4 separate regions of the Homo sapiens genome follow, and regions 2, 3 and 4 are each reported to be linked to region 1. The links are microRNA targets in miRTarBase. Many come from high-throughput screens and were not tested one by one. Region 1 holds a microRNA gene; each other region holds the end of a gene's coding sequence. Distances are between the middles of the regions.

Evidence for each region. Region 1 holds the annotated microRNA hsa-miR-4492 (GGGGCUGGGCGCGCGCC, at 5,463-5,479, opposite strand). A microRNA usually pairs through its seed, bases 2 to 8, with sites in the 3' UTR of a target mRNA and lowers its output. Matches are read on the target gene's strand: a 7mer-m8 pairs with bases 2 to 8, a 7mer-A1 pairs with bases 2 to 7 and ends in A, and an 8mer does both.
Region 2: the mRNA of NECTIN1 is a reported target of hsa-miR-4492. Seed matches in the 3' UTR shown: 7mer-m8 at 4,517-4,523, 7mer-m8 at 4,435-4,441, 8mer at 3,808-3,815, 7mer-m8 at 3,119-3,125, 8mer at 2,725-2,732, 7mer-m8 at 2,679-2,685 and 1 more.
Region 3: miRTarBase lists PODXL as a target of hsa-miR-4492. Seed matches in the 3' UTR shown: 7mer-m8 at 3,418-3,424.
Region 4: the mRNA of SLC10A3 is a reported target of hsa-miR-4492. Seed matches in the 3' UTR shown: 7mer-m8 at 5,742-5,748.

Annotation. Positions count from the first base shown.
Region 1 is chr11:118,908,366-118,916,243 of GRCh38, reverse strand. It overlaps MIR4492 (microRNA 4492), which reads right to left and starts at 5,536; the gene lies at 5,457-5,536. BCL9L (BCL9 like) reads left to right here. Exons shown (of 10, transcript NM_001378213.1): 3 at 6,229-6,330; 4 at 7,589-7,878. The coding sequence starts at 6,305. RefSeq lists enhancers at 1,571-2,110, 2,405-2,514, 3,193-3,734, 3,735-4,276, 3,352-4,551 and 3 more.
Region 2 is chr11:119,660,187-119,665,186 of GRCh38, forward strand. NECTIN1 (nectin cell adhesion molecule 1) reads right to left here. Exons shown (of 6, transcript NM_002855.5): 6 at 806-5,000. The coding sequence ends at 4,561. Among named protein-coding and RNA genes, the nearest start is that of NECTIN1-AS1, 47 kb to the right of the region's middle. RefSeq lists enhancers at 4,410-4,948, 4,949-5,000.
Region 3 is chr7:131,498,658-131,506,535 of GRCh38, reverse strand. PODXL (podocalyxin like) reads left to right here. Exons shown (of 9, transcript NM_001018111.3): 7 at 215-276; 8 at 501-668; 9 at 2,028-6,265. The coding sequence ends at 2,225. Among named protein-coding and RNA genes, the nearest start is that of PODXL, 54 kb to the left of the region's middle. RefSeq lists an enhancer at 1-877.
Region 4 is chrX:154,481,732-154,489,609 of GRCh38, forward strand. It overlaps SLC10A3 (solute carrier family 10 member 3), which reads right to left. Exons shown (of 2, transcript NM_019848.5): 2 at 5,580-7,351. The coding sequence starts at 7,209. The coding sequence ends at 5,776. It overlaps UBL4A (ubiquitin like 4A), which reads right to left and starts at 4,884. Exons shown (of 4, transcript NM_014235.5): 1 at 4,806-4,884; 2 at 4,497-4,602; 3 at 4,040-4,248; 4 at 1,986-3,918. The coding sequence starts at 4,853. The coding sequence ends at 3,808. RefSeq lists enhancers at 260-319, 3,573-4,331, 4,332-5,090, 5,428-5,487 and silencers at 4,268-4,417, 4,908-5,167.

The DNA.
Region 1 (7,878 bases):
GGTACCAAGAGGGGTGGGCTGGAGCCCCTGGCTCTGCTTATCATGTTCCTCTGGATCTAGAGAGGACACCTCCCATCCATGGGCCTGGGGGATGAGGGCTCAGGGTCTGCCTGGGCCATGCCTTGCTACTGGACTGGCCATGCCTCCTGTGCCCAGCCCCTGGGGCCTGTTCCTTGGGCAGGCTGGGGCTATTTTTGGGATCGGGCTGGGGCTCTGGGGCCGGTTTCAGATGTTCCAATGTGAACACGAGAAAATGGGAACAGATGGCTGGAGGGTTCCGATCAGTGGGTCCTGCTGGGCGCAGGTTATTTTTAGGGCCTTGTTAACCCTTTGGGGGCTTCTGGGGCCACCCTGAGAGATACAGCCCTGTCTAGTTGAGAAGAGAACAGGTTTTCTCCCTGGGCCCCCTACTTTCCAGAACTGCTTGTCAGTTGTTCTTTCTCTCCCAGACCCTTCCTTTGAGATCCATGGCAAGAGAGTAGGCTTAAGCTTTCTCCCAGCCCAAGTACTACAGGGTGACTGCCAAGGGGCAGGCAGGGAGAAGGGGACCTGGCAGAGGGGAGGCTGGCTCTCTTGAAGGGAAATCCCCCTTCACTTGCCTCCTGGACTTTTGAGACATGGTCCTGAGGCTAAGAGAGTGGACAGCCACCCAGCCCCTCTCTGGGTTCATGCTCTGGATTTGAGTGTGTCGGTGAGCCCAGGATGCCCAGGAGTGTGCCAGCGGAGGGAGCTGACCTCTGAGAGGAGGGCAGGGGAGGAGCCAAGTCTTTTTACTTGGTACCACTAATATGATGCCCACAGGCCCTGTTCTCTTGGACACTCACAGGGAAAATATCTGGACAGTGCCTGCCTTTACCAAATGCCCACATATTTGGGTGCCATGGCAGGAGGTAGAGATAAGGAAATTGAGGCCAGAAGTGGTTTGTCAAGGGCTGGTGTGTCTTAGGCATTCTGTTAGTTTCACTACTGTTACCTCACTCTATAAAATTATTCTCCTTTTGCAGATGAGGAAGCTGAGGCTCAGAGGGATAAAGGGAAGGACAAGGCCCCATAGATGAGAAGGGGCAGGGTGTGATTGACACTGTCTGACTACAAACTTGGTTTTTTTTTTTGAGACAGTCTCGCTCTGTTGCCCAGGCTGGAGTGCAGTGGTGCGTCTCAGCTCACTGCAACCTCCGCCTCCTGGGTTCAAGCAATTCTCTGCCTCAGCCTCCTGAGTAGCTAGGATTACAGGCGCCCACCACCATGTCTGGATAATTTTTGTGTTTGTAGTAGAGACAGGGTTTCACCATCATGGCCAGGCTGGTCTTGAACTCCTGACCTCGTGATCCACCTGCCTTGACCTCCTAAAGTGCTGGGATTACAGGCGTGTGCCACCGCGCCCGGCCCTCAAACTCAGTTCTTATTCCACTGCATCATACTGCCTGCCAGGGCCCCAACCTCAGAGGGCGAGGCCACCAGGCACCAGACCTCCTCTGGGAGCAGCTTTACTGAATGGGTGTGGGAGAGGAGGCCTGGGGACAGGGGACCCTGCCTGTCACTGCTCTCACAATCCCCTAAGCCTTTCTTGCCTGAGGGTGCCAGGACTGACACCAGAAACCCCGTGTGGCCTTCTGTCTCCCTGCAGAGGTCACAGGCATACATCCTGTCTCATCACCCCCACCCCTCCCGGCCTGGCCCACGTGCCCCTGCATCCTGGAGGGTCATGACAGTCTGGATGTCAATGTGGGCAGAGCTCGTGGGGCCCCCAGGTGCTGCTGCTGCCAAGAGTGTGAGCCATCAGGGGAGGTGAGGGGCCAGGAGGATGCCTCTGCCTCTGGCTGTACCTGGGGAGAGAGCAGAGCAGGCAGGCAGGCGGGCGGGCGCTGGGTGAGGTCCCACCGTGGTGCGCTTGGCTGTGCCAGCAGTCTGCTGCACTCCATCCTCCCACAATGGCCCCATTGTTCCCAGCAGCCAGGCAGTTTGGAGGAGGTTCCTCGGCCACCCCTACCCCCCTAAATAGGGGACAGATTAACCCCTTGGAGGACTGAGGCCAGGTGAGGGCCCACAGGGAGCTGCCTTGCCCATCTCTGCCTGTTCTGGGAACCCAGGCTTGGGAAGTTACCTTCTACCCATGTGAACCCAGCACCACACCACCTCCTGAGATGGGAGTCTCCATAGGGTAGAGAGTGGCACCTGGATCATCTCCTACCCCCACCCTGGTGCAGGTGCCAGGGGACAGGAAGTACCAGTGGGGCGGCGGGCAGAGACCAGATATATTTGGGCCGGTGGGGCTAATTCCAGCCACCACTGCCTGCCCTACTGGCTCCTGAGCTCCTTTCCTTCCTGTGAAACCAGAGCTAGGTTGGGCCTAGCTCAGGATTTCGGTGGATTTAAAGAGGCAGCACCATCCCTGCCAGCCTGGCTCCCTCTACCCTCCCCAGGTAGGGTCTGGGGCAGAGAGAGGACTGGAGAGCTTCTTGCTCCTCCCTTGCCCTGGGCTAACCCCTGGCCCTTGCCTCTGTTGGGGTACCAAGCTTTTGGCACTCCTCTCTCCCAGAGCCTTGGGCGGGTGGGGTGGGCGGGGGTGGGCTGTGGTTTCCTGTGTTGGTTGTTTGTGCCTGGCCCAGAGTGCCCGCCGCCTGCCTGGGCTTCCTGCCCTGTCTTGTTTCCTTGTGCCCCCCACCCCCTCTCTACCCCTCCCCCTGTGGGAGGGAGCAGCTGGGGATTGGGTAGCTGTCTTTGGGGGCACCCCACTGCCAGGCCATGATTGCTTCCCAAGGCCCGGCCACACTGACAATGACTGTAGGAGCCAAGAGAAGTGAGGTGACCTCAGGCCTGTCCAAGCAATGCCACTTGTCTGTGCAGGCTCCAGAAGGGACAGTGGGCCAGAATGGGCAAAACCGCCGATCACCCCCCAGTACCCTGTTCAACAATCCCAGACTAGAAAGGTCTGGGACCAGGAGTTTCCCTGGTCCTGTGGAGCTGGGGTTGTCTGACATTACCCTAGGGCTGCAGGTGGGGTGGGGCTGGAAACTCCCAGGGAAAACCTCCCAAGCAAAAATGGCTGATTTGCATGGTCTCCTTTGGCACAGAGTCGGGGGAAGTGTGGAGAGCTACTAGGAACCAGGGCCATGGGAAGGCCCCCTAAGCCTGGAAGTCCCCACATCGAGGGTCCCAGAGCAGCACCTTGGTCCTTGAGCAGATTTCCTGCTGGGCTACGAATCCTTGACCTCCCTGCCCGCTGAGTCACCACCTCAGGAAGAGGAAGTGACCTGAGTGGTGGAGAGAGCTTCTGAGGACTGAGGGGTCCTGACACCCAGGAGAAAGGGGATTTGGGACCCTGTCGTCTCGGGCGCTGTATCTCCCTGAGCCAGAGGCCAAGGATCTCGTTCGCCCTGTTGTCCCCAGCAGGGTCCTGGGCTTTCACGTCATCACAGGGGGCCCTGGCAGCTCAGGAGCATGAACCCTCCAAAACATTTCCTCACTGCCTCTTTGGGGTGGTTTTGAGCTAGGCAGTGACACTGCTGGGCCAGCTGGTGAGCCAAGCAGAGGCTCCCAACGTGGGGGCAGCTAGGAGCAGGCAGGTTGCCACTGGATGTGTGAACGCCTGCCCTACCTGTGGTAGTTGTGTGTGGAGCAGAGCCGGTGTGTCATACCTGGAGGCTCTGGGCATCTGAGCCTTCCTCAGCTCCCTCCCCCAGCTAGGATCAAGTCCACTTTAACCCTTAGCAACCCTTAGGCTGCTAGCTCCTACCCTCGCGTCACTCGGGGTGGGGGAGCGGATGGATATCTCAGGCCCTTTGTCAAGCCGCCTCTTCCGCTCCTCCGATTCATTCTCCTGGTATGCGCCTGGCCTTCCACTCAGGTGACTCGCACCTGCTCCCTGTTTGTGAGCTTGCTACCCCTCCCCACCTAACCCCCTAAGAGGGAGGCACGGTGACGTGTTCCCAGAGCCCCATCCCTTTGCTTTCTCGTACCTCAAGGGCCCCTGGCCTGGTACTAGCAAGCCCCCTTCACTGGGTGCTTTAAAATTGCATTGGGCTGGGATCAGCCCTCTTGGCTTCCCATCACCAGGCCTTCCAGGTGTCTTCGGAGACTGTGAGTGTGTGGAGGAGGAGGGGTCTTCGGGAGCTGGGGCAGACTCTTGAGGGGCAAAGGGGGGAGGTGTGAGATGGGAAAGTCCTGACTCATCCACGCTTGACTCAGCTCGCCCTGCGGCGGGGTGGGAGAGAGGGGGTGGAGTCCCGGAGGGGAGGGTGACTGGAAGAGTCTTCTGGGGAGGAGCCTAGGCCTGAACGGCCACTGGAGAGGACTGATTTTCTAATAGCCCCTTCCCAAATTCTTACAGGTTCTCAATTTTTGAGGCTGTGAACATAGGTAGTGAGTGGCCCTTGCCCTGCCCCTCCCCCCTTATGGGGGACCTGGGCACTGTGGCTGGAATGTGGGAAGCCCAACTATCTGATGCAGGCTCAGAGGAGCAGTCATGGCTGGCGTGGGGAGGTGGGGTCACTGCAGTGTCTGGAATGAGGGTCCGTCCCCACACTGCCACATACTGGATATGTGACTCAAGGTCACGCCACTTCCTTTTCCCAGACCTCAGTTTCCTCGTTGAAATGGGGTCGATCCTTTTGAGAATCAGCGAGCTGGTGAAGGGAGAGCCTGAGATGCATGCCAGCCAGGAGCCTGCTCAGAGCCCTGGTATCTCAGTGACTCCAGCCTCTGCCTCTGCTCTTCCCTGGTTGTGATGGAGAAGCTGGGGGTGGCGGGCTGCTTCCCAGGCAGGTCCTGGACTTTGGAACCTTCCCCCAGGAGCCTTCCTCCCCAGAGACACGGCTGGAGTGGCGAAGGCCAATGTGCCCTAGGGTTAAGTTGGGGTTAGACTCCCGCAGGGTGGCAGGTGGGGCCCCCTCACCCCCAGGTCCCCGCCCAGCCTCCAGCAGCCCCGCAGGGAGCATCAGGAGTGTGCACCGGTGTCTGGCCGGGCCTGTCACCGGGACGAAGCTCCTGGGCCCAAGACTCCTCCCCTTTGACCGGGATCGGCTGCTGGAGGGCTGCTGGAGGGCGGGTAGGGGAGGCGAGGGGGGAGCCAGGGCTGGGGGCGGTTGGGTGAGGCCTCTGTGTTTGTGTAAGTCTGTTGCTGTATCTATGGCCCTGTGCGTGTTTCTTTGTGACTACCAGGCTCAACTTTCTTCGGCTCTCTTGTGGCCGGCCTCAGTCTTTTCATCTGTTCAATGGGTCCGGCGCTCCCACTCAGCCCTCGGGCAGCCCCGGTGTCTGCGCGTGCCCCAGGCTGTCTCCGCGCCTCCCGCTCCGGCGGCGCTTCCCTGGCCTCGGCGCGCCTCTAGCTTCCTGGGCTCCGTGCGTGTCTTGTCTCCCTGTCCACGTGTGAGCTGTGAGTGTGTGTGAGTCAGAGTTCGGGTGTCTGTGGGTCTCTGAGCCTCTGCTGGCAGCACCCGGGGCTCGCCAAGCTCTTGCCGGCTGGCGCGCGCCCAGCCCCTGGCGGGACTTGTCCGTGTGTCTGTCCGCGCGCGGGGCCTGGAGAAGCACGCTGCAGTCCTGTCCGCCTCCCGCTCGCTGCCTCGCTGGCTGTCGCTCGCTCGCTCTGCCTCTCCGCCCGGGCTCTGCCGAAGGGGGCGGGGTGGGGGTGCAGGGCGGGGGGAGGGGAGGCTCCTGCATTCTTGCGGTCGGGGAGGAATCCGAGCCAGCGTTACTGGTCTCCAGAAGAGCCCAGCTGCAGCCCCGGGGCCCCGCCAGGCCTCTCGCTGCCCGCCCGGGCCTGCTGGGATGGGCACGGGCTAGGCCTCGAGCTGGGGACGGGGCGGGGCGTGGCCCCAACCCCGGGCCCCCTCCACGGCTGGAGCGCTCTGGGGGTGGGGCACGAGGGGTACCCCACCCTGGGTGAGGGGCGCGTCTGGGAGCAGGAATCCCTCAGGGGGCCAGGGGAGACCTCACAGCCGCCCCACACGGCACCTTTGCTACCTAGCCTTTTAGTGAATTCTGTCTCTGCCGCCCGTCGGGGCGGAGGCTTGCTGGAGACTGCAAGCCCCCTGAGGGCAAGGTGCGGGAGGGATGGGGACAGGGCTGGCCTCCAGGATCGAGACCCCATCTCGTAATCCTCTTTTTCCAGTGCCACCCCACCCTATCCAGCTCCCTAGTCCCAGGGCTGTTGGGTCCTCCCTTCTCCCCTCCCCCTCTGACACCCCCTCCCCAAGTCACGAGTTTTCTCTTTGGGGCTTGTTGCTGCAGTCCGTGCTCCAGTACCGAGTACCTGGCTGGGCCCTGGGCACGCACAGGGGCCGTAGCCCCACTGTGTGTGGGAGCCATGAGGATCCTGGCTAACAAGACAAGGTGTGTGGGTGTCGTGGCGGGTGGGATGTGTGTGTGTGGAGTGCGGGAAGGGAAGGGCCCAGTGGTGATGGGGCCCAAGCTGTGCTGGCCAGGAGAGGAGCCGCCCTGGGCACCTGGCTCCCAGGCCACCAGTGGGCTAAAGGGGGGTTAGCATGGGAAGGCCTGGCCCGAGGCAGGAGGCGCAGCCAGCCTTAGTGCCTGGGCCTGGGTGGGGGGCAGAGGGGACTGGCAGCCAGCTATGCTTGCGGCTTCTGGTCCCTTCTAGTTCTTCCCTCCTTAAAATGGTTTGAGCAGACCCCCTCCCACCCTACTGTGGGGTCCGAAGGCCGCCTCTGGCCTCAGTCTAGCTGGAGGTGGGAGCTGGAGTAGGGGGCGGTGCCTGCCTCCCTCCCCCCTCCCCGGAGAAGCCGGCAGACAGGGCCAGGCGGCAGCAGCAGGACAGCAGAGCTGAAATAAATCTGAGCTGGTGTGGAATGAGGGGGGATAAATATCCTCTCCCGTGATGTGATCTTTCCAGCGGCTATTAATAGGTCTCCGGGGAGGGGGAGGCGGCGGGGGGAGCGGGCTGGAGCTTAAAGGGCCCGCAGCCTAGGCTGCAGGAATCCTTGGCTTCAAGCTACACTCCCCATCTGCTTGACACACCGCTCCCCTCCCCCTTTCCTCCTGCTTCTGCCTGCCGGCCTGGCCTGCCAAGCCCCCCTCCTCAGGCCTTCCCCTCCAGCTGTCTGGACCAGTGGGTAGCACTCCCTGGTGTGCGTTTTCCCACTGTCCCTGGGGAATGAGACCCGGGCATGTGCAGTGACCCCAGGTCCTGTGGCCCTTCTCTGCTGGTGTTGGGACATATGGGAGTTGAGGTTTGAGACCTTGGAAGGAGTCTGAAGACAGCAGATCTTAGAAGAGAGGATGCTTAAGTCTGATACAGAGGACAGGGTTGCCACAGAAGCTTGCAGGCTGATGGGTGTTTTGGGGCTGAGGTGGGTGAATTCTGCCAACTCTAGGCCCTGGTTTCCATTCAAATTGTGGAGGCTAGGGGGTGGAGGGTTTCCCCATCTCCACTCCCCAAGGTGGATGAGGGCTTCAGCCCTTGTCTGAGGAAGCCATGGAGGGAGGTAGAGAATAGCTGGTGGTGGTCTTGAGATACCACCCCTTCCCCCCACCCTCCCCCATTGTTAGGGGAGGCAGGATGGGGTAATTAAGTTGCAGGCATGCCTAGCCCCTAGCAAGGTTAACTTTTCACATTTCTCCCACCTCCTCCCAGGTTACCCCACCCCAGGAGGAGAGAAGCTCCAGGGAGCCCGCCGCTGTCCCCCCGCGGTCATTGCCCCCCTGCCCCAGCCAAGCCAATGCACCCAGAAAATAAATTGACCAATCATGGCAAGACAGGGAATGGCGGGGCCCAATCTCAGCACCAGAATGTGAACCAAGGACCCACCTGCAACGTGGGCTCGAAGGGCGTGGGGGCGGGGAACCATGGGGCCAAGGCCAACCAGATCTCGCCTAGCAACTCAAGTCTGAAGAACCCCCAGGCAGGGGTGCCCCCTTTCAGCT
Region 2 (5,000 bases), 750 kb from region 1:
AGTGAAAGGAGATGCTACTGGGTGCGGGGGGTGACGGAGGGATGGCTGGGATGGGGCAGTCTCTGAAGCCCCTGCCACTCCCACCCCCAGGATCGATTTGTCCTGCATTCCAGCCCAGGAGATGGGAAGCAGATGGTGCTGGTGGGGAGAGCGGGGAGGTAACCGAGGAACAAGAAGACCTTCTCTCCAAACAACCAGCCCCCTGGAGAAAAATGGGGGGGTACAGGAGGGGTGGGTCACAGGGAGAGCTTGCAGGGGATGGGGCGGGGCAGTAGCTTCGAAATAGAAGATGAAAGGATAAAGCTCTCAGCTCTTCTCCGTCCCCAGGGACCTAACACGGCAGGCGTGACACTGCTGGTTTTCTTCTCCAAACAGCCACAGGAGGGGACGTGGCAGGAACAGGACAGCAGGAGTGGGTGATAGGGGAACTGGAATCTGGGGCAGGAGGCACCCGTACCCCTAGGAGGGCACCAGCCGGCACAGGGCTTTCCCTCTCTGCTGTGTGCACCCCCAGCCCTCTCAGGCCTTACTTTCTTAAAGGCCTCCCTCCTGTGTCTGTGGACGCCCACCCCTCCCTCTGCGATGCTGTCGTCAAAGTCCATGGTCTTCTCACTTGCATGGAAGATGGTTCCGGGGCAGCCTGTGAGCAGTCTCCCTCAGGGCTCCTGCTCCTCTGGAACCCTGGAACCTGGACATGGGGTGGGGGGTCCCTTCCCCTCACTATCCCTCTGTGCCATCCCCTCCAGCTCCACGCCTTCCCCGCCCCCACTGCCATGGAGCAGGGCAGTGATGGGATGCAAACCAGTTTGTTTTAAACACTTTATTTATAAAAAAGTACATTTTTAATCCTCAGTACATTTTCAACCCATCATTTTTTTTTAATACAAGTAAAAGGGGGTGATGCAAACACCCCCCAGGTCAGAACCAGGAGGATCTGCTGGGCTGTCCCTGGACCAAAGGCGGAAAGGGCGACAAGACGCCGAAGCAAGGTAGCGCATCACGCTGGGAGGGGAGGGTGGCAGCTTCTCCTGGATTCTTTTCATTTATACAAAAAAGGAAAACCAATTTTTTCGACCAAGAATCCCATTCCTCACAGCAGGGGTCAGAAGAGCAGCAGCACCGAGTGGGACAGGGGCTCCTCCTGGCCTCACAAGCTGGGCAGTGTTGGCAGCAGTGGCAGCAGCAGAGGGGCCTGCCTCCTGGCATCCCCGGTACTGGGCAGTGTGTGAAGCCTCCCTGTGGGTGTGGGGACCTGGGGCACACCCACCTGCCCCTCACTAGGAGAGGGTTTCTGTTGGCAGTCAGGCTTTGGGGGTCTCTGTCTGGACTCCTGAGGCCTGGGAGCACTACCCTCCTCCCAGAAGAGGGGACATCCGTGTCTGCTTGGCTCAGCAGAGCTGCCCACACCCACCTAACACAATTCCCAATTTCTCTGCTCTGAGGAAGGCAGAAAAGTTATTGCACCAGTGACTTGGGCAAGTGGGGGTTGGCTGGCAGAGGAAGCGCATGCCCAGGAAACAGGGCCCCTATAAGGCTCTCTTGCAGCCCGGGCACTGGGAAATTCGTTTCTCCTTAATGGCTTTCAGCAGGATCAGACCATTCCCTCTGCCACATCTGTGCTGAGTGGCCATCTGGCTGTGCATGCATGCGTGTGTACATGCGTGTACACATGCCTGCGCGTGGGTGTGTTGGAGGTGTGAGTGTGTCCACTGTGGGCACACGTACTGGGTCTGAGGTGGTCGCACTTGCAGGCCTGTGTTCACCTACTCTGTGCTGCTGCTTTTCAGACCCTTCTGATAAAAGGGGACTCGGCTGGTTCTATTACACATTAGAACAATATCAAAATCTGTAAGGAAACAGGGGCATGGGTGTGGGGTGGGGGGCAAGGACAGGGAGGGCAACAAGAGGCAGGATGACAACTGGGGAGGCCTTGGCACAATTCATACCAAGTTTATTTCATTTCCAGCAAAGCAGAAGCTCAGCTCATGCTGTGGGCATGAAGGAGAAGCAAAATGTCCTCATCTCTCTGCTGGGCTAGACCTCCCTTTTGCCAGCTGGCTGTGTCTGTGGGCCCAGCAGTAGTGCCCACCTTCCCACAAACTTGGGGCACAGAAAACCTCACATCCCTAGGTCCAAGTGCTGACTCCTGCCTCATGCCCACCCTCAGCCCAGGCTGGCAGCTGCTCGGTGGGTATGCTGAGGCTGGGCCCCTGGCAAGTCAGGAGCCTCCTACGTGGCCCATGCTACATGGACCCCAAAATTTGTGCTTTGCTTGTGGGGAGGGTGTGGAGGTGTCTTAAGGGGGAACTCAGTGCTTTGGCTGGGCTTGGGGCCTTCAAAGTCCAACACAGAATGGGGAATAGAGGGTGGCAGTGCAGGATAAAGGAGATGCAGGAGGAGACAGGGACAGGAAATGCCTCTATCAGGCAGGCCCCTGGGATTGCCTCCTGCCTGGGGGAAAAGGGGACCAAGCAGAGGGGCCAGAGTGTTGTAAGGTGGGATGGGGCAGTGATGTAATGTGGAAAAGGTCCCCTGTCCTGGGGGACACTAATACTGCTGGGAAAAGCAGCCCAGCTCCTCCACCTCCCTCTGCCCTGTGGCTGGAAAGACTCCACAATTTTCTCCCCTAACTTCACCCTATCCAGTACCCCAAATGTGTAGAGGGGAGAGCCGCACCAGGGCTGGCATGGCTTCAGACTTCTGCTACGTGGCTACTGGGCAGCCTGGGCTGGGGCCAGGGCAGTGAGGGCCAGACAACGACGACCCACCTGCTGGGCCCAGGGTTGCCAGGGCAGAAATGGAGCTGGCAGGGGGTTCAATAGCAGCACCAGGGAGGGGAGGGGAGGGGTTGGGGGGCTCCCTTAGGAAGCCTATGGCAGGGTGGGTCAGTGCCCGTGGGGCACAGAGTGGTCTGCCTCCCTCCTCCCCAACACTTGCCATCCTGCAGAGCCCCTGACACCCTGGGGTGAGTTAACTGGAATCCCAGTGGGCAGGCATGAAGGGCCGCGAAGCCTGCCTCTCCATCCCAGGGTCCTTCCCATGGGCATGCCTGTCTAGAGTGCCAGGGGATCTGGGAGCAGATGGAGGAACTGAGGCACTTTGAGCTGGGGGACTGAGAGGGCTGGGAGGGGTCTTCCTCCATTATATACATGGGAAGACCCAGTCTGGGGTGGCTGATAGGAACTCAATGTCCCATTCAAGAAGGGAATCTGCACTGAAAGGGAGGGCTTCTCCTAGGCCCTCCCCTCATCCCAGAATGAGGACCAGGGGTGGCTGAGCAGGAGGTGGCCTAGCGGCCCCACCCCCCTCACTTTCTGCCAGGCCCGAGGCTTTGACAATGGCCTTTGTGTGTGAGGCATTGTATGGACTCCTCAGTCCCTCGGACTGTGTTTGCAGAGCTTCTGCCATGTGGGCTTCCTTCCCCACTACCCTCCGTGTGGATGCTTCTTTACCTCTGACTCCTGCAGGTGGATCCCCCTGGGATCCCAGCCCTGACTAGCCAAAAGAACCAAGTGTTGCTAGATAAGGGAGAAATCAGAGAAACCTCCACGCTGTAAGAAGCAGTTTGGGGCAGGCCTGAGATCCTAGGGTGGAGGCACCGGGGACCCAGTCTCAGCTGTCTCTGGAAGCTTCTATAGGCAGACCCCATTCTCAGCTTAAAGGGGGAATGAGGTGGAAATAGACGGGTGGGCCTTGGGCAGTGTCTGGATGGGGCAGGGCATGGGACTCCAGGGGAAAGCAGGCAGAGAGGAGCAGTGTGTGCATGTGTGTGTGTGTGCACGTGTCAGCAGAGGCAGAGAGCAAGTGTGGGCTGGAGCCCACCTGGAGCCCCTAATGGAGGGGGCACATTGGGGATAAAGAGGGGACGCGTCAGAGCTAGGCCAACTCCACTCTCTGTGGGCCAATGAGGAAAAAAAATGTAAAACCACCCTCAGCAGGAAAACACTGCCCAAGGCCCCGCTTAACAAACAAGACTCCCTGGGAACTGGGGAGAAGCCGCACCCCTCCCCCTACCTCTTGGGCGCACCAGCTGTCTAGACCCAAGGTCCAAACTCCCAGCTGCATCAGATTTCACTGGTGGGTGTTGGGTTCCCTCTAGCCGGGAGGAGGAGCAGCATCTGGGGGTGTGGGGAGCTTTTCCCTCTTAGAGCCCCTTGAGCCCTCCACCCCCAGTGAAGAAACACAAACAAATTCCAGTGTAGGGGGGCGGGGGAGGCTGGCTCCCCAAACCCTGGAGGGATGCCCAGGTACACAAGACGAGAACAGGGCTCCCTACACAGAGGGCAGGCAGGTGGGGCCCGTAAAGGGAAGATACAGTAACACTAAAGCCACAGTCGAACACAACACCATGGGGAAGGGCGGAGGAGAGGGAGGAAATAAAACACAAAGCCAAGTCGTGGCTGCCCTGGGCTCCCCTGGCCCCCCAGGAGTTCGGGGCTGGCTTTGGGCAGCTGGGCAAGTCTCTGTTCAGCTCCTGGAGTGGGAGGTGGGGGGTGGGCAGGGGGCGTGCGGGGAGGGGCTGGGGAGGAGCGGTCACAGACAGAGGCTCTGGAAGGGGGGCTACACGTACCACTCCTTCTTGGAAATGAAAGACCCGTCGTTCTGAGAAACCATGTTCTCAGCCAAGTCCAGCTGCTCAGGGTCGTACTGGTAGCCCAGAGTCCGGTCCCCGTAGCCGTCCTGACGGGCCTCGGCCTCATCCACGGTGAAGTAGGGCCGCTTGGCGTCCTCGTCATATTTGGGGTGGGGGCCGCCCACCTTGCGCTCGCCCCCTCCACCGCCCTCCTCCTCCTCCTCCTCCTCCTCATAGCTGCTTCCACCCAGTGGGCCGGCCTTCTTCTCGTCGTCTGAGTCGTCGGGGTACTGCAGGTTCTGTGCCATTGGTGGGTGGTGCTGGGGGATGCCTGCCTTGCTGTAGCCGTTGCCATACACGTGCTTCTTGGTGCTGTAGTCACCCTTGAAGGTGTGCCGGCGCCGACGCAGGGCGACCACGATCCCGC
Region 3 (7,878 bases), not on the chromosome of region 1:
GGGAATGGGGGGCATGCAGAAGCCACATTGGAGGGTGGGTCACAGTGGTGCCCCTTCAGTTCCCTAAGAACTGTCAAGCCACACCCCCTCCCAGGTCACCCGAGAGACACTCAGGAGACTGAGATACGGTGCGTCCCTCTCTTGGGGCGCAGTCCCCGTCCCCCACTGCCTCGCTCTGGGCTGGGCCATTGGGCATCGTCTCCCTCTCCCACAGCTAAGCTCCCTGCCAAGGATGTGTACGAGCGGCTGAAGGACAAATGGGATGAACTAAAGGAGGTAAGCGGCCCCCCAAGTGTGGGGACAGAGTGGCTCCGAAGCCCCTTGTGGGAGGTCTGGTTACTCCCCTCTCTCTGTGGGGAGGAACCCCGTCATGTGCCTGCATGTAGAAGAGGGCGGCGGCACGGACCCTAGCAGACTGCAAGCGGAGGGGCTCTACAGTGAAGCCGGGGGCTGAGGGAGAGAGGATGCCCCCAGCCTGTTCTCTGCCACTTCCCATGCAGGCAGGGGTCAGTGACATGAAGCTAGGGGACCAGGGGCCACCGGAGGAGGCCGAGGACCGCTTCAGCATGCCCCTCATCATCACCATCGTCTGCATGGCATCATTCCTGCTCCTCGTGGCGGCCCTCTATGGCTGCTGCCACCAGCGCCTCTCCCAGAGGAAGGACCAGGTAAGCAGCTGTTTGCAGCCACACAGGGGAAGCAGCCCAGGTCACCAGAGGAACCCTCCCCTCGTGATTCCCGAGTTGCAGAAGAGGAAAGGGAGCAGGCCCTGGACCCTTTCTAACAGGCAGAGGCCACCCCTGATAGGCAGCCGCCTCAGTCCACAGAGCATTACAGAGGCAGCGTGGCAGAGGACAGAGCGTGGGCTTTGGAGTCGGGAAGACTTATTTATTTTTTATTTTATTATTATTATTTTTTTCAGACAGGGTCTTGCTCTGTCACCCAGGCTGGTGTCACCCACTGCAACCTCAAGTGATTCTTGTGCCTCAGCCTCCCCAGTAGCTGGGATTACAGGTGCCCACCACCACGCCCGCCTAATTTTTGTATTTTTACTAGAGATGGGGTTTCGCCATGTTGGCCAGGCTAGTCTCGAACTCCTGACCTCAAGCAATCCGCCTGCCTCAGCCTCCCAAAGTGCTGGGATTACAGGTGTGAGTCACCACGCCTGGACTGGAGTCAGGGAGACTTGGTTAGTCCTGGCCCTGACCTTGAGGAAGTCAGTCAGATGAGCTCTTTGGGCATCAGGTTCCTCATCTGCACAGCAGGGATAACCTCCTTGCAGAGCTGGTCTGAGGATTCATTGATAGAAGCAGGCCTAGGTGTTCTGTCTAACCAAAAATTCTTCTGCCTACCTTACTAGAATTCTCGCCATGATGGTGCCACCCAGACCCTGTGGTTCTCACTCCTGCCTGCACACCGTGGGGAACTTTAGAAAAATTCCCTTGCCTGACTGCCTCCCACACCAATTCAAACAATCTCTGAGTCCATCAGTGTAGTTGTTAAAAGCTCCCCAGGTGATTCTAGCATACACTCAAGGTTGTGTTTGAGAGGGACAGAAAGCGCCTCTGCCAGATGGCTGCTGTCTGCCGCAGGGATGATTCTAGAGACACCGTACCCATCCTGCCCAGGCTTGAGGGCTCAGTCACCCAGCCCGAGAGAGGTCATTTTTTAATAGTGTTTTTCCCATTCATTATGATAGGTGAGGTAGGTGCCTGGAGAGGAGGTTTTGGGGGAAGGGATGAAGGGGAGGAGAGAGCTTAGAGGACTCTGGAGAACAAAGTCCATCTCCACTAACTTCACAGGTTCTGCCACCAGGGTGAGGGTGAGGGGCAAGTCTTTGTTCCCAACTAGTTCCGGGCAGGCTGAGAGCCAGAATGACCACCAGGAGCAGCCAGCCCCACAGGCGAGCAATGAGGGCCTGCTTTAGCTACAGTGGGGCTCCTGAGTGGGAGGGGTACGTACATGCGCTGTATTAAGCTCAGAGCCCTCTGAAACCCCCTTCTCACCGGTCACCTTCCCCACTCTAGCAGCGGCTAACAGAGGAGCTGCAGACAGTGGAGAATGGTTACCATGACAACCCAACACTGGAAGTGATGGAGACCTCTTCTGAGATGCAGGAGAAGAAGGTGGTCAGCCTCAACGGGGAGCTGGGGGACAGCTGGATCGTCCCTCTGGACAACCTGACCAAGGACGACCTGGATGAGGAGGAAGACACACACCTCTAGTCCGGTCTGCCGGTGGCCTCCAGCAGCACCACAGAGCTCCAGACCAACCACCCCAAGTGCCGTTTGGATGGGGAAGGGAAAGACTGGGGAGGGAGAGTGAACTCCGAGGGGTGTCCCCTCCCAATCCCCCCAGGGCCTTAATTTTTCCCTTTTCAACCTGAACAAATCACATTCTGTCCAGATTCCTCTTGTAAAATAACCCACTAGTGCCTGAGCTCAGTGCTGCTGGATGATGAGGGAGATCAAGAAAAAGCCACGTAAGGGACTTTATAGATGAACTAGTGGAATCCCTTCATTCTGCAGTGAGATTGCCGAGACCTGAAGAGGGTAAGTGACTTGCCCAAGGTCAGAGCCACTTGGTGACAGAGCCAGGATGAGAACAAAGATTCCATTTGCACCATGCCACACTGCTGTGTTCACATGTGCCTTCCGTCCAGAGCAGTCCCGGGCAGGGGTGAAACTCCAGCAGGTGGCTGGGCTGGAAAGGAGGGCAGGGCTACATCCTGGCTCGGTGGGATCTGACGACCTGAAAGTCCAGCTCCCAAGTTTTCCTTCTCCTACCCCAGCCTCGTGTACCCATCTTCCCACCCTCTATGTTCTTACCCCTCCCTACACTCAGTGTTTGTTCCCACTTACTCTGTCCTGGGGCCTCTGGGATTAGCACAGGTTATTCATAACCTTGAACCCCTTGTTCTGGATTCGGATTTTCTCACATTTGCTTCGTGAGATGGGGGCTTAACCCACACAGGTCTCCGTGCGTGAACCAGGTCTGCTTAGGGGACCTGCGTGCAGGTGAGGAGAGAAGGGGACACTCGAGTCCAGGCTGGTATCTCAGGGCAGCTGATGAGGGGTCAGCAGGAACACTGGCCCATTGCCCCTGGCACTCCTTGCAGAGGCCACCCACGATCTTCTTTGGGCTTCCATTTCCACCAGGGACTAAAATCTGCTGTAGCTAGTGAGAGCAGCGTGTTCCTTTTGTTGTTCACTGCTCAGCTGATGGGAGTGATTCCCTGAGACCCAGTATGAAAGAGCAGTGGCTGCAGGAGAGGCCTTCCCGGGGCCCCCCATCAGCGATGTGTCTTCAGAGACAATCCATTAAAGCAGCCAGGAAGGACAGGCTTTCCCCTGTATATCATAGGAAACTCAGGGACATTTCAAGTTGCTGAGAGTTTTGTTATAGTTGTTTTCTAACCCAGCCCTCCACTGCCAAAGGCCAAAAGCTCAGACAGTTGGCAGACGTCCAGTTAGCTCATCTCACTCACTCTGATTCTCCTGTGCCACAGGAAAAGAGGGCCTGGAAAGCGCAGTGCATGCTGGGTGCATGAAGGGCAGCCTGGGGGACAGACTGTTGTGGGAACGTCCCACTGTCCTGGCCTGGAGCTAGGCCTTGCTGTTCCTCTTCTCTGTGAGCCTAGTGGGGCTGCTGCGGTTCTCTTGCAGTTTCTGGTGGCATCTCAGGGGAACACAAAGCTATGTCTATTCCCCAATATAGGACTTTTATGGGCTCGGCAGTTAGCTGCCATGTAGAAGGCTCCTAAGCAGTGGGCATGGTGAGGTTTCATCTGATTGAGAAGGGGGAATCCTGTGTGGAATGTTGAACTTTCGCCATGGTCTCCATCGTTCTGGGCGTAAATTCCCTGGGATCAAGTAGGAAAATGGGCAGAACTGCTTAGGGGAATGAAATTGCCATTTTTCGGGTGAAACGCCACACCTCCAGGGTCTTAAGAGTCAGGCTCCGGCTGTAGTAGCTCTGATGAAATAGGCTATCCACTCGGGATGGCTTACTTTTTAAAAGGGTAGGGGGAGGGGCTGGGGAAGATCTGTCCTGCACCATCTGCCTAATTCCTTCCTCACAGTCTGTAGCCATCTGATATCCTAGGGGAAAAGGAAGGCCAGGGGTTCACATAGGGCCCCAGCGAGTTTCCCAGGAGTTAGAGGGATGCGAGGCTAACAAGTTCCAAAAACATCTGCCCCGATGCTCTAGTGTTTGGAGGTGGGCAGGATGGAGAACAGTGCCTGTTTGGGGGAAAACAGGAAATCTTGTTAGGCTTGAGTGAGGTGTTTGCTTCCTTCTTGCCCAGCGCTGGGTTCTCTCCACCCAGTAGGTTTTCTGTTGTGGTCCCGTGGGAGAGGCCAGACTGGATTATTCCTCCTTTGCTGATCCTGGGTCACACTTCACCAGCCAGGGCTTTTGACGGAGACAGCAAATAGGCCTCTGCAAATCAATCAAAGGCTGCAACCCTATGGCCTCTTGGAGACAGATGATGACTGGCAAGGACTAGAGAGCAGGAGTGCCTGGCCAGGTCGGTCCTGACTCTCCTGACTCTCCATCGCTCTGTCCAAGGAGAACCCGGAGAGGCTCTGGGCTGATTCAGAGGTTACTGCTTTATATTCGTCCAAACTGTGTTAGTCTAGGCTTAGGACAGCTTCAGAATCTGACACCTTGCCTTGCTCTTGCCACCAGGACACCTATGTCAACAGGCCAAACAGCCATGCATCTATAAAGGTCATCATCTTCTGCCACCTTTACTGGGTTCTAAATGCTCTCTGATAATTCAGAGAGCATTGGGTCTGGGAAGAGGTAAGAGGAACACTAGAAGCTCAGCATGACTTAAACAGGTTGTAGCAAAGACAGTTTATCATCAGCTCTTTCAGTGGTAAACTGTGGTTTCCCCAAGCTGCACAGGAGGCCAGAAACCACAAGTATGATGACTAGGAAGCCTACTGTCATGAGAGTGGGGAGACAGGCAGCAAAGCTTATGAAGGAGGTACAGAATATTCTTTGCGTTGTAAGACAGAATACGGGTTTAATCTAGTCTAGGCACCAGATTTTTTTCCCGCTTGATAAGGAAAGCTAGCAGAAAGTTTATTTAAACCACTTCTTGAGCTTTATCTTTTTTGACAATATACTGGAGAAACTTTGAAGAACAAGTTCAAACTGATACATATACACATATTTTTTTGATAATGTAAATACAGTGACCATGTTAACCTACCCTGCACTGCTTTAAGTGAACATACTTTGAAAAAGCATTATGTTAGCTGAGTGATGGCCAAGTTTTTTCTCTGGACAGGAATGTAAATGTCTTACTGGAAATGACAAGTTTTTGCTTGATTTTTTTTTTTAAACAAAAAATGAAATATAACAAGACAAACTTATGATAAAGTATTTGTCTTGTAGATCAGGTGTTTTGTTTTGTTTTTTTAATTTTAAAATGCAACCCTGCCCCCTCCCCAGCAAAGTCACAGCTCCATTTCAGTAAAGGTTGGAGTCAATATGCTCTGGTTGGCAGGCAACCCTGTAGTCATGGAGAAAGGTATTTCAAGATCTAGTCCAATCTTTTTCTAGAGAAAAAGATAATCTGAAGCTCACAAAGATGAAGTGACTTCCTCAAAATCACATGGTTCAGGACAGAAACAAGATTAAAACCTGGATCCACAGACTGTGCGCCTCAGAAGGAATAATCGGTAAATTAAGAATTGCTACTCGAAGGTGCCAGAATGACACAAAGGACAGAATTCCTTTCCCAGTTGTTACCCTAGCAAGGCTAGGGAGGGCATGAACACAAACATAAGAACTGGTCTTCTACACTTTCTCTGAATCATTTAGGTTTAAGATGTAAGTGAACAATTCTTTCTTTCTGCCAAGAAACAAAGTTTTGGATGAGCTTTTATATATGGAACTTACTCCAACAGGACTGAGGGACCAAGGAAACATGATGGGGGAGGCAGAGAGGGCAAGAGTAAAACTGTAGCATAGCTTTTGTCACGGTCACTAGCTGATCCCTCAGGTCTGCTGCAAACACAGCATGGAGGACACAGATGACTCTTTGGTGTTGGTCTTTTTGTCTGCAGTGAATGTTCAACAGTTTGCCCAGGAACTGGGGGATCATATATGTCTTAGTGGACAGGGGTCTGAAGTACACTGGAATTTACTGAGAAACTTGTTTGTAAAAACTATAGTTAATAATTATTGCATTTTCTTACAAAAATATATTTTGGAAAATTGTATACTGTCAATTAAAGTGTTTTTGTGTAAACTGGTTCAAGCTCTAGTAGTTTCCTCGGACTTCTTAAAGCCTTCACTTGTGTATGAGGCTCATCGCCAAAGTGCCTGAGAATGTCGGCTCACACCCGTAGCACAGGAGCCTCCGTGCTGAGTTACACTTGTCCAACTCTGCAGGCAAAGAAATTAGGCAAGAGAAGGAGAGAAACCGGAAGAAAAAAAAAGGGGGATCCTAAAGGTGGTTATGAGTCTTTATGTTACTCAAGCTATCCTAGTGACTCTAAAGAACCTCACTTTCCCCTAAGATGACGTTGTATGTTTCGCTGTCTTCCTTCCCTCTACTTCTGCCTCAGATACATTGTGAATCACCACTATCAGAAATCCCCAAGAGGGCTGCTGAACATTGATCAGGTATGAAAACACTGGCAAAGAGACTATATATATACATATATATGTGTGTGTGTGTGTGTGTGTGTGTGTGTGTATGTATATATATATATATATATATATATATATATATATATGTAAAAACAAAGCTCTGTTCTGGCCCTGTTTCTGCCATAAAAGGATCTGTTTACTGCCACAAGAGGCTTCTGCCTATCCCTCCTCCAGGTCTGCAGTGAAGATAGATAGCGGTTTAAGGAAGGAATCACTGGAGATGATTCTTTCTTCATCTCCTAGTGTGGTATTATCCACAGCTGCATGCTTCTTCATCGGAAGGGGTAAACTTCATCATTCCAAACTTGCAGAAGGGAAACTGTCAGGTAGAACTGGTCCATAATCTTAGTTGCTAGACAACAATCTTGTCTACTTGCCTAGCATCTTACCATTTACAAACCATTTTATAGGAAACCTATAGGTTTACAAACCTATCTTATAGGAATTGTCCCCACTAGGGAAATTAGATGCAGGAGTTAAGTATTCTCTTTGAGATTGATCACACAACCATTTAAATGGCAGCATGGGCCTTGATTCTCTTTTTGCTCTTTAGTCCTACACTCTTTTCTCAGTATCACGTTAATGCCAGAGTTCCAACAACAGCAAAATACATTTCTAGAATGCAACTACTGTTACAACATGATTTTCCTTCCATGAAAGTTGTTGTGAAAAGCAGTTAAACCCTGAAGAGAGGTCTAGAGTTGGGCCCGGGTAATTTTGAGGTTAGCTTCGAGAGGGTGCCAAGGATACAGAAAGGAGTCCAAGTACAAGGAACTCACACAGGACCCTGGCCATGGTCGAGGTGCACTGTTCTAAGAGTGACCCACAGCTTATTGTGGGCCACAAGTTAGACCTAAGATCCCATTCTCTTTCTGAGTAGGTCATTCACCCTGATCCCTGCCTGCCAACCAAGACACACGCTCAGTTGTCAATTTAAATGTGTTATGCTCATTTGTCACTCAGAACCTTCCCTATAAGCTCCCTCCCAAATCACAGATTTCTTCTGTACCACAAGGGAAAAAAGTAAATAAAGAATAGAACTGGCTACATAATTAACACTAGTGATAAACACTGAGATATCTATTGCTTTCAAAGACCTTGGTGGGGAATGGTGGCTTATGCCTTTAATCCCAGCACTTTAGGAGGTCAAAGTGGGAGGATAGCTTGAGCTCAGGAATTCGAGGCCAGCCTGGGCAACACAGCCAGATC
Region 4 (7,878 bases), not on the chromosome of region 1:
CCCATCTCTACTAAAAGTACAAAAAAAATTAGCCGGCTGTGGTGGCATGCATCTGTAGTCTCAGCTACTCAGGAGGCTGAGGCGGGAGAATCTCTTGAACCCAGGAGGCAGAGATTGCAGTGAGCCGAGACCACGCCATTGCACTCCAGCCTGGGTGACAGAGTGAGGCTCCGTCTCACAAAAAAAAAAAAAAATCGATTCAGGCAAGGAATTGTCGCTGGATGGCAAAAGCATTAGCTGAAAGGTTGTTGGGGACAGGATATTCACAAAGTCCCCAAATATTACCCCAAATTACTTGTGAATCAGGAAGGGAAACTGCGTCTTTACAGGGGAGAGATCTGGCAGCAGCCACCTGGATCACGTGATCAAACTGAGCGTCCTCAACAGTGGGGCAGCCTGACCCTGCCAGCTGCCTGATGAGGGGCTGGGGGTGAGTGTGGTCAGAGGAGGAAAGGATACAGTAGCAGCTGCCCTGGATGCTTCCAAAAATATTCTTGCCTGATTGCCTATGGAGAATGGCTAGTTGGGAGAGGCAAAGATGGCCTCCTGCTCCCTCAGAAGCCTGGCTGAGTGGCATTGCCAGTCCTCCAGCCGGGCCGTGGAGAACACGTGTGTGCTGAGGAGCCGGCCAGTGCTGGACGTGAGTGCCAAGAGGGAAGGGACTGTGTCTTCCAGTCTCAGGGTTGCCAGCACCTGGGACACAAGGGGGCACTCAGTGATGAGCAGGGTGTCGTCTGCAGCAAAGTCAGGCGCTGTCTGGAAGACATGGGCTGGAGCTCAGGAGAGAGGGCCGGGATGAGACATAGACATGGCAGTGAGGCACAGAAATAGAAAGCAAGCTGGATGAGCTCCCCGAGGAGTGATACAGAGGGAAGAGAAGGGGCTCAGGGACAGAGCCCTGGGGCACCAACATTGAGGGGTGGGGTGTGTGTGAAGAACCAGCAAGAGAGCCTGAGTAGGAGCAAGTGGTGGAAACAGCGGGAGAGCAAAGGCAGAAGAGGGTGAGGAATGAGGACTGCCGGCCATTCAGTGGGGCCCTGAAGGTGTATGCAGGCCGCTCCAGCTGGGCCCTGGAGGAGGACAGGGCAGTTGCTGTGTGTCTCTCATCTCTCCTGAAGGCTTTTCAGGGCTGGGAGGCTCAAGGCTGGCCACCTCTGCTGCATCTACTCCTGGGAGTACCAGGCCCGGGCAGATCTATTGGAGCTGGTGAGGCTCACATGGGACACCAGCTGATCCATTGCCAGGGAACCTCCCCACCCCAAGGCAAATGCTGCTGTCCTCTGAGGCCGCTCTTCCTCCCGTGGGCCCTTGGGAAACGACACCAAAAGCACCTCATCCCAGCTGGGCCCTTCACTCATGCTGCTATCTCCTGATGTCATTGTAGTCACACCATGGCCGCAGGACTCAGATACTGTCCCGAGGCCCCTCCCTGAGGGGCAGGTGGTGGGTCTCAGGGCCCTTCACCGGGCAGGGGGCAGTGGATGACTCGGTGCTACCTCTCAGGGCGGACAATTGGCTCAGAGGGGCGCAGCACCTGCAGTAAACATTCTGACCCCTGTTAAAGGATCTCAGCATTGGGGGGGCTGCAGCCTGTGGCTGCTCCATCTTCATGCAGAATCCCCAGTGTCCTCTAACGATCCCCCCACTTCCTGTCTCCCATCCCTGCAGTGTTTCCTCTCTCTGGTGCTTTCCCTAACCCAAGCCTCAGAAAACGCTTTCCCTGTGTGATCTTGACGCCTCCAGCCCTCTCCTCCACTACCTGCGAGGTGGCCCTGATCTGACACATGCATGGCCCCTGTAGTGGACAGCTGCCATTTGCGGCCACCATTGAGGATATCCATTCATCCAGCCCTCCCCCAGAGCCTTCTGTCCCTTGCATAGCCCATGTGTGTCCAGGGAAGTGGCCCCATGCCTAGCTCCAGGGAGCCAGCCCTGACGGAGAATTACCCCCTACCCCAGCCAAAATGATTGGACGCACAATCCAGTTCTGACCAACGAGAAGAGTGTTTATTTGCTGGGGGCATCTGAGACAGCAGAGGTGGTACACAGAGAAGATGCTGCTCTGGCAGTGAGGGAGGGATTCCGTGGAAGCTGCAGGCAGCCATCTTTTCATCCTCGGAGGTGGTGGCCTGGGATGTAGCAGATACCAACGCAGAGGGAGGCAGAAGACACTGGGTGAAATTGCTCACCTGCTGCCAATGCCAATACCACTGGACTTTTCACTTTCATAAGCCAAGAAATTTCCGTTAACTGATTAAACAAATTGCCTTTATTGTTAAACCAATGATTGGATATCAGAAACAGCCTAGCTAATATAGCTCCTTTTGGATAAAAGTAGAAGCCTCACATTCACCTTTAATGTTATTTCACTTTTTCCAAAATCAATTTCCTGGCACCACACAAACAAGAACACTGGTAAATGTATCACCTGAACTGCAGGCCACACATGCTCACGAGTGTGTCCCTGCCGTAGGTGGCTTTGAAGCCATATACATGGCTCTCCAGCTCTCGTGGGGGGCCAGGGGCTTCTGTGTGCTCTTCAAAGCCTTCACCCATTGGGCCTCTGTCCATCTTTCCAGCCTGGGGACCCAATATTTGCCCCACAAGGCCCAGGCAGGAGGGCCTCCAGCACGCGCAGCCCTGACCACACTGTGAGCAGCTCACTTGGCAAGGGTGAAGGGCCGGAGTGGCGTCCTCCTGATGTGGCTTCCTTCCAGCCTCTACCACCCCTGGGGGCCTCCTCCAAGGAGCAGGTGGTTAGATGTCCTCTTGTGCCCACACACACGGCAGGGTGGAGGAGGATGAACCGGAACCCAGTCCATGCTTCTGCCCCCACCCTGGCACCCCAAGGTTTCTTCTCAGGCAACAAGGAGCACACAAAGTGAGCCCCTGTACACAGGTGGCTGGGATATGTTCATCTTCCACAGGGAGGCCAGTGCTGGGGATGAGGACAAAGGCCTACGCCCAGTCCCAGCTCTGACACTGCCTTGCTGAGTCACCCATCAGCCCTAACGCTTCCTGGACGAGACAAGCAGATAGGGTGCCCCAGAGAGGAGCTGTGTCACTAAGGGCCAGGACACCCCATCTCTGGGTCACACTTGGCCACGGCTTCATTTTTGGCTTCAGTTTGTTTACTGAACAGAAGGGAGAGGGGCCCTGTGAGACAGAGGACACTGACTCAGGTCGGTGAGTGGCCCTCACTGTATAGAGTCCATGGCTGGGGACCAAGTGGCACTGAGACTCGCCCAAAGTCACATCACAGAGCTGGGGTGCCTTGCTGACTCCCTGGCCCCAATCTGCTTTTCCATTTGTCGAACGCACACTGGCACACTGGCTGCAGCAGCTGCGGGGGTCGGGGGGTTCCAGGGCTGGCTGTCACTTGGCCTCCTGCAGAGGTAAGCTGAGGGCTATGTTGGACCCGCCAGAAGTCAGGTGACAGCTGCTTTCCCTTTCAGGATCGGGAGGGAGTCACCTGAGGGTATATTCTCAGTGGGCTAAACATGACATGCGAGAGCCCAGCTCTCCAAGCGGCCCCTTCCTCCTTCTCACACCAAGGCACTTTCAGAAGCCGCTGGATTCCGACTGGGGCTGTGCCACTTCATCGCCGGTGCCTCTGCTGTGCCGGCTCTCCTCTTCTGAGGGTGTGGAAGCAAACCCAGGTCAAGCTGTGAGGAGTGCCTAGCACCTGGCCAGAGCCAGGTACATGCCAGCTATGATGATGATGAGCCCAACTGCAACAGGAGAACACACTTAGTGCGACATGCAGCGGTAGCCTGGCGTTGGGCACCTCCCCATGCTCCGAGAATTCTATTTGGAGAAGCCCTTCTCCATTGTCTCAGTCACTTCAGGGTGCAGGAAGCGGCTGGCCAACCGTTCGATGTCGTCCAGCGTCAGGCGACTCAGGGACCTCTCGTAATCCTGGGGAGAGAAGGGCAGGAAGATTCAGGGGCTGCCAGTGGTGGGGGGGCATACACTGCAACAGAGGTAGGGGCTGGGAGCAACTGGGCCTGAAGAGGATGCCCAGGGTTACCCTTCTCACCCTCTGTAGCTGTTCCAGGACCCTGCTGGCATCTGCCGCACTGAAGTGGCGGGCCAAGACTTTGGAGATCAGCTGCCAGACCTGCGGGGGTGGGGAGTCGGCCAGCCTCTGGGCCTCGCCTTCTTCTAGTAGCACCTTCTCCAGGGGTTTGACCACTAGGTTGAGCTTGGAGTTGGGCCCGATGCTATAATCCGAGAGTCGTTTCCCATCTGCCAAAGACAGATCGATGGGTTCCTCCTCCTCCACCGCCGTGGGGGTGGCCCGGGGCGCGAGGCCGCCTCGGGCGGCGGGAGCGGAGCGCTGCGGCATCCGGCTGTGAGGCATGCGGCCGCCTCCCTTGGGGTCATGTGGCGCTTGGCGCCCGCACCCCGACCCGACACACGGCTGCTGGCCTCGGCCCGCGCACCCCGGTCCCGCTTCCTGCGGGGCTCCCCGGGCGTCTCCTCTCCCTGGGTACCTGCCAGGGCCTTGCCCTTGAACAGCAGCCGCTGCTGGCGCACTGGGACGTTCAGCTTCTCGGAGACCAGCTGCTTCAGCGTGGACACCAGCTCGTCCTCTGGCACCTGGCCGCGCGGAGGGTGGGAGGCAAGGGTTGAGCCCGCGGCCCCCAGACGGCGAAGCCCACGCGTCCGCCCCCGAGGGCAGCTCTCCCGGCTCCCGGCCCTCGGCCCGGCCGCCCCGTGCCCGCCCTCGGCCCTGCCGGTCCCCCTGCCAGGAGCGGGCGAGAGAGCGCGCCGGACCCGGCGGCCCGGCCCGGGGACCCTACCTGCAGGCTGCACTCGCGGCCCTGCAGCGCCTTCACCGTCAGCTGCATGGCGGTCGCGACGGCGTCCACTCGGGCCGGCGCGCACCCCAACCACCCCCCGCCGCGCGCCGCCGCCCCGGGCGCGCGCTGGAACCGCCCGCCGCCGCCGGAAGCAGCGAGAGGGGCGCGCCCGCCGCCCGCGCTTCCCGGCCCCGCCCTCCTGCCCCGTCCGCGCCCCGGCCCCGCCCCCCGGCCCAATTGCGCCCCGGGAGGAGTCCCCCCGGGGTCCCGCCTAGCATGCGCGCATCGACCGCCCTGGCCGGCGGACCCCTCCCAAAGCAACGACGCGGGGGAGTTGGGAGCAGGAACCAGTCGGGCCAGGTTGGCGTCATCTGGGAGCTGGGACATGGAGAAGGGAGGGCCAGAAGGTACGCTCGCCCCCGCGGACTGCCTGGCCCACCTCACGCGCCAGGACTGCTGGCGGCGCCTGGCCCTGCATACCCACAGACGGCCCGCCCCCGCTCCCTGTCTGGTGGCTTCCTACCTCCTCCTTTCTGGTCTGGCTGCGAAACGCTCCACTGAGCTTGAGAGGGGGCAGGGGGGCTACGCCTCTGCCCTCATCCTCCCACCTCTCCCAGAGTGGGGACACCCCCGGGGAGGGCTGATAGGGAAAGCCTATGCAGGGGTCACCGTGTCACCCAAGCTGGCCCTCCACCCTGGTCCACACTTACCCAGCACACTCTTTCTACCCCCACGCCCAGGCCCCAAAGGGCAAAGAGTAGAAGGGACCCAAGCTTGCTTCTCTCTTTTATTGAAATATATTTTCTGGGCAGCGCCCACCTACCTAACTCAGCATGGCCTCTTTGGCACTGAAAGCTGGAGAATAAAAAATCAGTAAAAAAAATAAGCCTGGATTTTTCTGAGTGCATAGTGCATGAGAACTTTGGTGGAGTGTGGGGGCTGGGGCTGATGAAAGCTTGACCCAGAGGCCTCAGGGAACTGGGAACAGGCTGCTGTAGATGAAGTGGCCAATGACCAAGGCCAGCATCTCGGAGGTGCCGCTCAGCGCCACAATGAAGGGGGCCTGGGAGGCATAGTCAGCTTGAAGGCGGCGGAGGGATAGCTGCAGCATGGCCAAGGCCAGCAGGCTGTTCTGCACCCCTACCTCAATGCTGACCGTCCGCCGCTGGGCCACTGGCAGCTTCAGACACGTGGCTAGGCAGTAGCCCACCAACAGGCCAACCAGGGGCACCGTGATACCCACCAGTACGATGGGTAGCCGGATGCCTGCCAGGATGAAGACCCCCATGCGATAGGCCAGGAAGAGGCCGCCCAGGAGGAGCACAAAGCTGAAGGGCTTGACGACCTGCAGCAGCAGCTGGGAGAACTTGGGGAGCTTGGACTTGATCAGCACGCCCACGGCTATGGGGATGGCAATGAACAGCAGGGTCCCCAGGATCTTGGAGATGGGCACGTGGAGCGTCTCATGGATGCTGAGCAGGCGGCTGTAGATGGCCGAAGACAGAGGCAAGAAGCCAGTGGCAGCCACCGTAGAGAGGAAAGTCATGGAGATGGCCAGGGTGACGTCCCCTCCAAGAAGGAGGCTGAAGAGGTAGCTCCCCCCGCCGCCAGGCGACGAGCAGGTGATGATGAGGCCCAGAGCCAGGGCCTTGGGCAGCATGAAGACCTTGGCCATGAGGAAAGCGTACAAGGGCATGACCAGAAACTGGCCCAGGAGGCCCAGCAGCATGGGCTGGGGGCTCTGCATGAGCCCCTTCAGAACCTCGAGTTCCACTTTGCACCCAAACGAACACTTGTTGACAAAGATAAGAGGCAGGAGCAGGTAGAGGATTGGGTTTTCCGAGAAGTGGGCCAGGTCGGCGCTGAGGGTGGCAGGCGTGTCTTCAGCAGGTGAGACCTTGATGCAGAAGTCTCTCCGCTCCTCAATCAGTGTGGGCGGGGCCTCATGGGCGTCCACGAGCTGGATGTGGAGTGGGGCCAGCCCAGCCAGGCCTGAGTGGATGCTCACCACAAAGCCACCCCCGCCTCCCCAGGTTATAGCACTCACGTTCTTGATGGTCAGCACCTCTGTGTCCAGGGAGGTGACCCTGAGCATGGGGCCAGGCGCCGTCCTGTTGGCCTGGCCTGGGTACTGGCTGGAGATCACGATGATGCCCTCACTGTCCTCAGGAAACTCAAACTCCATCACAGAGCCATCTCCAATGCTCAAGTAGCGGCCCCCAGTCGGTGGCACGGTGTGACCCCCAGCAGTGCTGAGGCTGGTGCTGGCTGTCCCTTGGGCCCCCCATGGCAGGCTGATGAGCAGCAGGGCAGCTCTGAGCATGCTTAAGGGACCTGTGCCACCACCCTCGCCCCCCAGACCAGGCCACTGCTGAGAGCTGCCCTTGTCCTGCATTAACACCATGGCTCTTCCTGGAGGACGGATGGCGTGCCCAGGCCCTCTGCGGCTTAGGAGAACATCCCCACTGGTGCTGTTGGGTTGTCCTGAGAAGGGTTCATGGGTGGGTCCCAGTCCTGTGCTGTCTTCCTTGATGGCAGGGCTGTCCCTGAGGAGGTAAGGGACACAGAGAGGCAGCTGGTGAGGGTCACTTACCCTGGAGGCCTTGGTCCAGCCATGTGTCTTACCTCTGAAGAGGGAGGCAGTCAAGAACCCAGGAGCATGGGGATCTGGAAGCCCACTGCTAAGAGTAAAACTCAGCAGGGACCCTTGCCCCACACTCAGGAATGGAGAGGCAATGCCTAGTGATGGCCCTTGAGTGCCATTCAGCTGTGGCTCCCTGGCCCACTCTACCTGCCCCTACAGTGACTCGATGAAGGTCCTGCTGGGAAGCAGGTCCTCCCTCCCCAGGGAAGTTGCCAGAAGGGGCGGCAGGAGTGGATCAGACAGAGCCACATGTCTACTGGGGGGGTTTCTCCTCCTTTTGTCAGAGCTCCCACTGGGCTGAGACTTTGACCTCCCAGAGCCACTGCGTTACATCTGAGAGGCTGTGCTCAGAGTGCAGGGCTCCTTCCCATGCCCACATGCGCCCCTACCAGAGCCTCAAACTCAGTGGAATTATGAGTGTTTCTAGCG